2 separate regions of the Homo sapiens genome follow, and region 1 is linked to region 2. Evidence: fine-mapped expression QTL. A gene starts in region 2. The other region holds a variant in brackets. All regions are shown on one strand. Distances are from middle to middle.

Region 1 (5,000 bases), 90 kb after region 2:
AATACACTAGAAGGATCTCTTTTCCTGTTTTCGTGAAACGACTCTTGCCAAACGTTCCCGAGGCGCCAAGGAGTGTAGTACACCCTGGCTGCCATCACTCTATAAAAGTGCTTCATGAGCCCAGACCAAAAGCCCACAGTGAAATGAAGTACCCTTTTGTAAATAGCATTTTTTTGCAGAAGGTGAAAATTCCACTCTCTACCACCGGGCCAGCCAATAGATCACTTTGGTGAATGCTAGTTTCAAATTTGATTCAAAATATTTCTTAGGTGAAAGAACTAGCAGAAAGTCAAAAACTAAGATACTGTAGACTGGACAAGAAATTCTACCTGGGCACCTAGGTGATGCCTTCTTTCTTTGATTGCCTTTCTAATAAATGCAGAATCTGAAGGTAAATAGGTTTAAAACAAAACAAAAACCCACCCCTTTAAGGAGTTGGTAAAAAGCAGTTCAACTCTTAGCTTGACTGAGCTAAAATTCACAGGACTACGTGCTTTGTGCATTGTAGTCTAGTCGTAATTCATAGGTACTGACTCCTCAGCCCCAAATGTCGGAGAGGAAGAATTCGGTCAGCCTGTCAGGTCGTGAGTCCAGTTACCACCAAACATCTGGGAAACTTCTGGGTGCTGGGTGCTCTGCTGCTGGACTTTTGTGGCTGTGTCTGTGTCTGCAAGATAAATTAGATCGCCCTGTGGGGTTTGCAGAATTAGTGAAGGGTCCAGGACGATCCCAGTGGGCTCGCTTCCAAAGCATCCCACTCAAGGGAGACTTGAAACTTCCAGTGTGAGTTGACCCCATCATTTAAAAATAAAGTCCCCGGGTTCCTTAATGCCTCCTTCACTGGGCCTTCCTAGCAGGATAGAAAGTCCTTGCCCAGAGCAGGACCTGGCTGTCTTTTTTTTTTTTTTTTTTTTTTTCCCGAGACCAAGTTTCACTCTGTTGCCCAAGGTAGAGTGCAGTGGCGTGATCTCTGCTCATTGCAACTGCCGCCTCCCGGGTTCAAGCAATTCTCATGCATCAGCCTCCCAAGTACCTGGGACTACAGGCGTGAGCTACCATGCCCGGCTAATTTTTGTATTTTTAGTAGAGATGGGGTTTCATTATGTTGGCCAGGCTGGTCTCGAACTCCTTACCTCAGGTGATCCACCCACCTTGGCCTCCCGAAGTGCTGGGATTACAGGCATGAGCCACTGCGCCCGGCCATGGACCTGGCTGTCTTTATCATCCCCACAAACATTTTGAAACTGGAATATTTGTCTTCAGAAAATGGAAACAAGACTATAAATGATAAGCCCTGTCCCTAGCACCACCTCTCCTGTGTGTGGAATAGAGGCCCCTCGTGCTACCAACACTTACCCTGTGTTTAAAAAGATCTTGTACCAAGCCAACGGCGTTCCTGGCTCTCCTGCCCACAGGATGAACATTTTCGGCTTCCTTAGGAGTTTTGCCCTACCGTATTCCAAAGCGTGTGCTGGTTTCTCATATTGTCTGTAGGCTCACTCAGCCCGCAGTTTATGTGTGTGCTTTTTTCTATGAAAAATGATGTATTTTGCTACTTCCTGTGTACAAAGTTTTATTGTAAATGTTTTTTGTGCTTTGCATGAACAGGGGCCACGTTGTTGCAATTGTTTCAGTAGAACTGGTTTGATTTCTAAAATGTTCCTGTAACATATCTTTTATGAACAAATCTGAACAATTTGTGAAATAAAACATTGAAAACCATCTTTCAGGCTCTGGACTGTTTTGTGTTGGCTGCTTCTGCTAGGATGTCTCATATACACAGAGATGCTGACAGCCAGGGCCTGGTGGAGACCTCCACCCCATCCGCGGGAAGGAGGGAGGAGCTTGCCAAAATGCAATTTCGGGCTCAGCAAGGCTGGGTTGGGGCCAGGGACTGTGAATTTCTCCCAAGATCCTGGTGATGCGAATGCTGCCAGTCCCCAGATCACACTCTGAGTGGTGGTGGGCTCAAGGCCATTCTGTCTAAGCTCCGGCTGCCCTAACAAAATACCATAGACTGGGTGACTTAACCCACAGAGATATCTTCCTCACAGTTCTGGAGGCTGGAAGTCTAAGATCAGGGTGCCAGCAGCGTTGGTTTCCTCTGCGGCCTCTCTTTGGTTTGCAGGTGGCTGCCCCTGGCCGTGTCCTCACATGGCCTTTCCTCTGGGCATGTACACTCCTGGTGTCTCTCTCTCTCTCTTATAAGGACACCGGTCATATTGGGTCTGGGCCCCACCCTTAGGACCCATTTAACCTGAATTACCTCCTTAAAGGCCCTACCTTGAAATACACAGGCTGGCTCATGCCTGTAATCCCAGCACTTTGGGAAGCTGAGGCAGGAGGATCACTTGAGTCCAAGAGTT[C/G]AAGAGCAGTCTGGGCAACATGGGGAAACCTTATCTCTACAAAAAAAATACAAAAATTTGCCGGGCATGGTGGCGCATGCATGTAGTCCCAGCTACTTGGGAGGCTGAGGCAGGAGAATTGCTTGACCCTGGGAGGCAGAGGTTGCAGAGAGCCAAGATGACACCACTGCACTCCAGCCTGAGTGACAGAGCGAGACACACACACACACACACACACACACACACACGAAAGAAATACATTGGGGGTTAGGGATCGTTTTGTGTGGTTACAATAAGGAAATGATCAAAGTACGATTTCACAAATCACACAGTTTATTGCTACACAAAGATGTTTTTTCCTTAGGTTCCCAGTGCTTAAACAGGGAGAGAATGAGACCAAACCTCACAGAGAATACACTCGACAGACGAAGCCCATTAACCCCACAGTGGGTCAGTTCCAGAATGATCAAGGCCTACTTGCTCACTTAGGATGGAAGCAGGCCTCAGTTTGAGGTGCACCTTCTACCAGCCGTTCTTGGAAGCGCTGTAAGGTCCCTAGAAGGCAGTTCCAGCGCTGGCCAGAGGCTTCTGAGAGTAGCTCCAAGGCTGGCGGGGTGACCTGTCACAGCTGGAGCTCCCAGCTTTGGGAGAAGATGCCGAGGGTGCAGCCGGCCACAGCCAGAGCTCCCAAAGGGTCCGTCCCACTGGCAGGTTTGCATGTGTATGGAAGTCCAGTCGTGAGGGTCAGGAGCTCGCAGACGGGGTCCGATAAGGGGTGAGGCCACATTCTCCAGGGAAGAAGGGGCACACCAAGTTCTTAGCGCAGCAAAACGCGTCACCCACGTAGCAACCTGTGGAGGTGTCTGGAATCATTTCAAAGCCCTGTGGGCCGGGCACAGTGGCTCGTGTCTGTAATCTCAGCACTTTGGGAGGCCGAGGTGGGTGAATTGCTTGAGGTCAGGCGTTCGAGACCAGCCTGGCCAATATGGTGAAACCCCATCTCTACTACAAATACAAAAATTAGCCAGGCGTGGTGGTGCACGCCTGTAATCCCAGCTACTTGGGAAGCTGAGGCAGGAGAATGGCTTGAACCCAGGAGGAGGAGGTTGTGGTGAGCCGAGATCGCGCCACTGCACTCCAGCCTGGGCAATACAGTGAGACTTTATCTCAAAAACAAAACAAACAAAGAAAACCCTATGTGTTCAGGGTGGGAAATTTAGTTCGTAACGGTCACCTTCTTCCCAGGCATCAGCCCAAAGCAGCCCCTTTTCACCAAGCGCAGTCACATCTCGCTGAGTGCCTCAATGCACCAAAGCCCCAGAGCAATTTGGGGGCACGGGGCCGGCCTTTCCTCTCCCCGGTGAAGGCGCCTGCCTTCCTCTCAGGCTCATCTCTAGTGCGGTCCTTTTCCATGCGTGATGGGGATAGCTTTCCTCTTTAAGAAATACCAGGCTTTTAAAATGTCCATTTTAAAATGTTGAGTAAGTTAAGATTGTGCAGGTCAATTGCAAAAATCACCAAGATTGGATAATAAGGGCTGAAGTTTGCGAAACACTTCCGGCTCTGCCCACAGCATCCTCAGCGTATGGCATTTGTCCTGCGACATACAGATGGTTACTGCTCCTAATATCATTATTTTGACCAATGCATTTGGCATTCCCTGCACTGTTTTCTCCTCTAAAAGTGTCTCCCAGGCCTTCACTGCTTCAGCCACTGCTCTCCTGCCTTCTACCCCAGGGAAGGGAGGCCACAGCTGAATAGCAGGAACAAAGGGGTCAATGTCAGCTTTCGAGTTTCTAAACTGACTTCTTGTTTGTTTGTTTTGAGACAGTCTCACTCTGTCACTCAGGCTGGAGTGCAATGGTGCAATCTAGGCTCGCTGCAACCTCTGCCTCCCAGGCTCAAGCAATCCTCCCACCTCAGCCTCCTGAGTAGCTGGGACCACAGGTGCACGCCACCACGCCCAGCTCATTTTTGTACTTTTTGTAGAGACGGGGGTTCACCATGTTGCCCGGGCTAGTCTTGAACTTCTGGGCTCAAGCGATTCTCCCGTCTCAGCTCCTAAAAGTGCTGGGATTACAGGCACAAGCCACCACACCCCGCCCGTTTGTTTTTCAACTTTTTTATTTTGACACAATTTCAGACTGGCAGAAAAGTTGCAAGAACAGTACAAAGAATTCCCATATACATTTCATTCAGATTCCCAGACACTAGCATTGGATTGCATTGGTCATTTTCTTCCTCTATCTCATTTCTAAATTATTTAAGAGAGAATTGCAGGCATCACACTCCTTTTATCTCAATACTTTGAGTGTATATTTCCTAAGAATGAGGACATTCTCTTACATAGCCATGATATAATTCTCTAAATCAGGAAATTAACATTAGTGCAATATATCATCTAATCTATATACTTTGTCCAGATTTTACCAGTTGTCTCAGTAACGTCCTTTATGGCGAAAGAGAATCTCAGGTCATGAGGTATATTCAGTTTTCTTTTCTTTTCTTTTTTTTTTTTTGAGACAGGGTCCTAATCTGCTGTCATCCAGGCTAGAGTGCACTGGCACAATCAGGGCTCACTGCAGCCTCAATCTCCCGAGCTCAAGCAATCCTCCCACCTCAGCCTCTGGAGTAGCTGGGACCGCAGGTGTGTGC
Region 2 (5,000 bases):
CTATGTAGAGGCTGATTCCGTGTAGCTTTCCTTCCTCTTTGCTGGAGTGGGGATGGAGTAGGGACCCAGTTCATTCCATTCCCCTGCACCCAAGGTTTCATGGTCACAGGCAATGGCAGCCACGTGGGTGAGAGTGTGAATTCAAATCCTGGCTCTTCTATTCAGAGGCTGTGTGGCCTCAGGGAAGTGACTTACACTCTCTGTGCTCAGTTCCATCATTGAAAAAATGAGGCTAATAACAGGACCAGCCTGGAGGGTTGTTGGGGGTGGCAGGATTTGGCAGTATAATGCTTTGGGGTCAGGTACTCAGAGGCATCTGTTTTGTTGTTGTTTGTTTGTTTGGTTGGTTGGTTTTGTTTTGAAATAGGGTCTTGCTCTGTCACCCAGGCTGGGATGCAGTGGCTCGATTTCAGCTCACTGCAACCTCCACCTCCCAGGCTCAGGCAATCCTCCCACCTCAGCCTCCTGAGTGGCTGGAACCACAGGCATATGCCACCATGCTGGCTACTTTTTGTAGCAACTGGATTTCATCATGTTGCAGGCTGGTCCTGAACTCAAGCCACCTGCCTGGGCCTCCCAAAGTGCTGGGATTACAGGCCTGAGCCATCGTGCCAGGCCTCCAAAGGCATCTGCTAACACAGATCTCTTCTCCCCTTGGATTTGTCTTTTGTCAATCCAAGGACTGTTGTTCTGGAACAGTCTTATTCACTACTGAGCCCTCCAGTGCTTGAAACAGAGCCCAGCACATAGTAGGTGCTTAATTATTGGATGACTGCATGCCAGTTGAGTGCCTCTGAAGAATGATGCTTCAAAGACTGAGAAAAGTAAAACAAAAAGAGGAAAAAAAGATAACAGAAAACATCTGCATTATTATTATCTTTTTGAGATGGAGTTTTGTTCTTGTCTCCTAGGCTAGAGTGCAATGGCGCCATCTCAGCTCACTGCAACCTCTGCCTCTCAGGTTCGAGCGATTCTCCTGCCTCAGCCTCCCAAGTAGCTGGGACTACAGGCATGCACCACCATGCCCGGCTAATTTTTGTATTTTTAGTAGAGACAGTGTCACCATGTTGGCCGGGATGGTTTCGAACTCCTGATCTCAGGTGATCCGCCCGCCTCAAACTCCCACAGTGCTGGGATTACAGGTGTGAGCCACCGCGCCCGGCCAGTCTGCATTATTCTGTATCTGCATTTGAGCCGCACCAAAATCTTAGGCAAGCCTTCCCTGTTTGAGTCCACGTCACGCAGGCAGCCTTCCATAGTCCTTGTTCCACCCATTCCCCATCCTTGTTTCTCCCACGTGCCCTAGCTCGTGGGGGCCCCAGACTCTGAGATCCCGGAGGTGTCTTGTTTGTGCCTGCTGTATAGCACAGGGCCCGGCACAGAGCGACTCGATGGGTATTTGGGGAATGAGTTAATGCTGGAGGAGCTAATTCCGGTGTCTTGGTGCGGAGATGAGCAGTGCGGACAGGCCCCCTCCTGCCCTTGGGCCCCAGCACCTTACCGCGCAGTGCCTGCATACCCGTCCACATTTTGTGACTGAGGCGGGAGCACGGGGCAGTCCCTTAGCTCTTAAGGAACGTGGATTTACCTGTTTCAAAGGTGATTTCGTCTGGCTCTAAATTGATTTCCGTATGTACCTGCACAGGTTAAAAATGCTAAATGCCTCCGGGCAAAAGAGATATGAACATGCTGCACTGCTCCTAGCTACGGGACTTGGGGCACGCTCTTCTCCAAGCCTCAGCTACTGGATCTGTGAAATGAGGTGATTTCCACCTCCCTGGATTCCTGGGAACGCGTCCTAGGGTCGTTGAAGGTAAAGTGCGGAGCCTGGATCCCCGCGCTAGCGGCCCCATCCGGAAACAAGTCTCCCTTTCTTCGTCTGCAAATTGGGAAGAGGGGGCCTAAGTTTTCTGAGCACGTGTAGAGGGTGGGAGTCACCTCAGTAACTGTGTACTCTGCACCGCGCCACAGTTCACAGCGCCCAGCCCTTGCGGATTTCATTTGCTAAAATCCTGGGAGGTCGCCTCCTTATTCCTATTTTCCAGTTGAGCTGCAGAGAGCTGGGGTTTGGTAAATTTGCAAGCCCCTTGTGGGAAGCGCTTGGCACCGCGCCAGGCGCATAGTAAGCGCTCAATGAAAACTATGCTTGTGTGGCCAGTGGCGAGGGAGCTGAGCGTCTCCTTGTCCCTAGCCGGCCCTGGAGGCCAGCGGCCCCGCCTTCCTCGCCCACCCGGCGCCCGCGCCTCAGCTGCCCCCCGCCTCCTTCAGCCCGCTGAGCCTGCGGGGCGGGGCCGGGGGCGGGGCCGGTGATGCTCGGTCCTACCAGCGCCGCCAGCGATCTGGGGGCGTGGCCTCCGGGCTCCGGGGAGCCTACAAGAGGCGGTACGCTGAGCCCCGGCACCCACTCGCATCCCAGGGCGTCTCCGGCTGCTCCTATTGAGCTGTCTGCTCGCTGTGCCCGCTGTGCCTGCTGTGCCCGCGCTGTCGCCGCTGCTACCGCGTCTGCTGGACGCGGGAGACGCCAGCGAGCTGGTGATTGGAGCCCTGCGGAGGTAAGTGTGATTTCCATGCTTCTCCCTTTTGCAAACTGTTACCCCCCCGAGAAGCTGGAATAACTAGGACAGATGCCACCTCGCAGGGCTGACTGTGTGCTGGCACCACACCGAGTGCTCTGCTTGCATAGCGGAACACAGCTTTGCGACATGCCCTTTTGCAGATGGAGAAACTGAGGCTCAGCGAGGACAACTCATTTGTCCAGGACCTCGCAGCCAGGACTCCAAGGACCCAGGATTCAACGCCGATCTGAGCGCAGAATCCTGCTCCTTAGAGGCTGTTTACTCTCTTGCCTTCCTCGTGCAGTTCACTAGCATTTGTTGCATTCCTGTGTTCGTAGTGGGTGTCAATAACTGGAAAGCTGATGGCATGGATATGGCAGGCATTAGAATGTGTCCTACTCATGTCTGGAGGACCAGGGTGATCTAGTGGCATGTGCATTCAGCTGCAGTTTAGAGGGCCACGCCCCTCTGTGATTTCATTTGCAAGGTAGCCTTCTTCCCACATTTCAGATGAAGATGCTGAGGGTCAGAGAGGTGAAGTAAGTTGTCCGGGCAGAGCCAGGGCTGGAACCCAGCTCTGTCTGTCTCCAGAGCTTCAAATGGATGTGTAGAGACTTGGGGCCATGTCAGGGTTCTGCAGTCTGGGGGAACACGTTTCTGGGTTTCTTTAGCCAGAGCGGGCACCTGCATAACTCCTGCGTGGGGAGAGTTACCCTGGAAGCGGAGGGCTCACTCTGGAGTGTGGGGGAGATCGGTCGTCCCACGTGGACAGAGCCAGGGCTAGTCCCTCATGTGCTGCAGACCCAGAGCCTCCCTTGCTAAGGCTGGGCTGGTGGACAAGCCAGGGAGGACTTCGCTGATGCCTGCTCATCGCAGTCCAACTTGAATTGGGCGTCTCTCAGCCAAAATGTGAGTTGCTGCCCTGGCTGAGAGAAGCATCCCGTGCAAATGCCTAGCTTGCCTTGCAACCGAGAGTGGGGTTGTGAGTTTCCCCTTTGGGCCTTTGGACCTCTTGCCCTGGTAGAATGGGGTGAGCCTGCTTTCCCCATCCAGGGTCTGATGTCTGACAGTGAGGAGAGCCTGCAGAACAGGACCGGGGCGTGGTCCTTTCCAGTAGACTGAGGCCATGAGTTGTGACTGTCGGCTGTCCCAGGGCTCCTTGGGTTGTATGCACCTGATTTTCTGCTTCTGCCCCTGATCTGGCTGTTCCCACTCAGGAGAAGGGGTGGGTGTGTGACTGTGTTGCCTGTGCGGCAGGCACGCGGTCTGTGCCACGCAGTTTACCTGTATTGTCATCGCTGCAACACCCCGGGGAGTAGGCCTCTTGATGCCCACTTCACAGCTGAGGAAACTGAGGCTCAGCAAGGTGAAGTGCTTGCCTAAGATCCCCCAGCTGGTATGGAATGCTGTCACCCCCAGGTGGGTCCTATCTGCACTCTTGACCCTGCTTTCTTTAAGACACTTCCCTGCCCACTGCCAACTCCACCCATGAACCTGACCTTCACACAGGTGATGTTTTGTCTTACAGGGGCTCCAGTTAAAACCACTGGACAATGTACCCAGGGAGGAGAAACCAAGAGGGTGATTTTGATTTTTTCAGAGTTTCTTAAGATGTGAGAGTAGGAATAGTAATAATGCCATTTGTAATAATACAAGCAGCTGACATTTACATGATGCTTAGTACAGACCAGACATGCCCAGGGTTTCCACGGATGAGCTCACTGCCTGCTCTATTAGCTGGGCACTTTTTACAAGGAGTTAGTTGAGGCTCAGAATTATTAAGGTGTGTGCCCAACATGACACAGCCAGGGCGGGGTAGAGCTGCCGTCCAGGCTGGGCCCTGCCCCAGATTCTGGGGGAAGGTGCCCATCTAATGACCAGCCACATGACTGTCCCAGCAGAGCTTGCTGCTAGTTGAGGCTTTCTGTGCCATGTGGGAGTTTTTTTAACGTTGGCAGGGATCTGGGTCCCTGGTCCCTGTTGGGGTGAGGCTGGGAGGGGATCAACTGACCCTGGGCTTGGGCTCAACATTGCTGACAGGTACTGAGAGCCCCGTCCCAGGACCCAAATCAGTGCTGGTTCTGAGTCCTGCCTCTGTCCTGGAGAGGAGAGTTGGTTTGACTGGGAAGGCCTGAGCTAGGGAAGAAGACTGCGAGGTCTCTTAAAACCTCTGCACTTCATCCCTCAAAAGACCACAAATTAAGTATGTGGCCCTTTGTAAGTTGCATTTGAAAGTTTTTGGAGGCAGGACCCTCTGACGTCTTTGGAGGTCAGAAAGTTTTTGGAGGCAGGGCACTGACCTCTTTGGCCTGTGGGAACTGGAACTTTTCTTTCCTCTGTCACCAGCGTCATTTGCTGTGTGTGGGAGGTGTCTGCATGTCTGCCTGCGCCAGACTCAGGAGGCTTTTTCTTTCTTTTTCTTTTTTCTTCTTTTGCAAACGCACT

Evidence for each region. PIP is the estimated chance that this variant, and not a neighbour inherited with it, causes the effect.
Region 1: its variant is fine-mapped to the expression of CRISPLD2 in whole blood (INTERVAL, PIP above 0.99).

What each region holds. Positions count from the first base shown.
Region 1 is chr16:84,907,787-84,912,786 of GRCh38, forward strand. CRISPLD2 (cysteine rich secretory protein LCCL domain containing 2) reads left to right here. Exons shown (of 15, transcript NM_031476.4): 15 at 1-1,722. Among named protein-coding and RNA genes, the nearest start is that of LINC02176, 18 kb to the right of the region's middle. RefSeq lists a silencer at 2,369-2,484. The variant C/G (reference allele first, on the strand shown) is at 2,367.
Region 2 is chr16:84,817,582-84,822,581 of GRCh38, forward strand. It overlaps CRISPLD2 (cysteine rich secretory protein LCCL domain containing 2), which reads left to right and starts at 2,404. Exons shown (of 15, transcript NM_031476.4): 1 at 2,404-2,552. RefSeq lists a silencer at 2,177-2,366.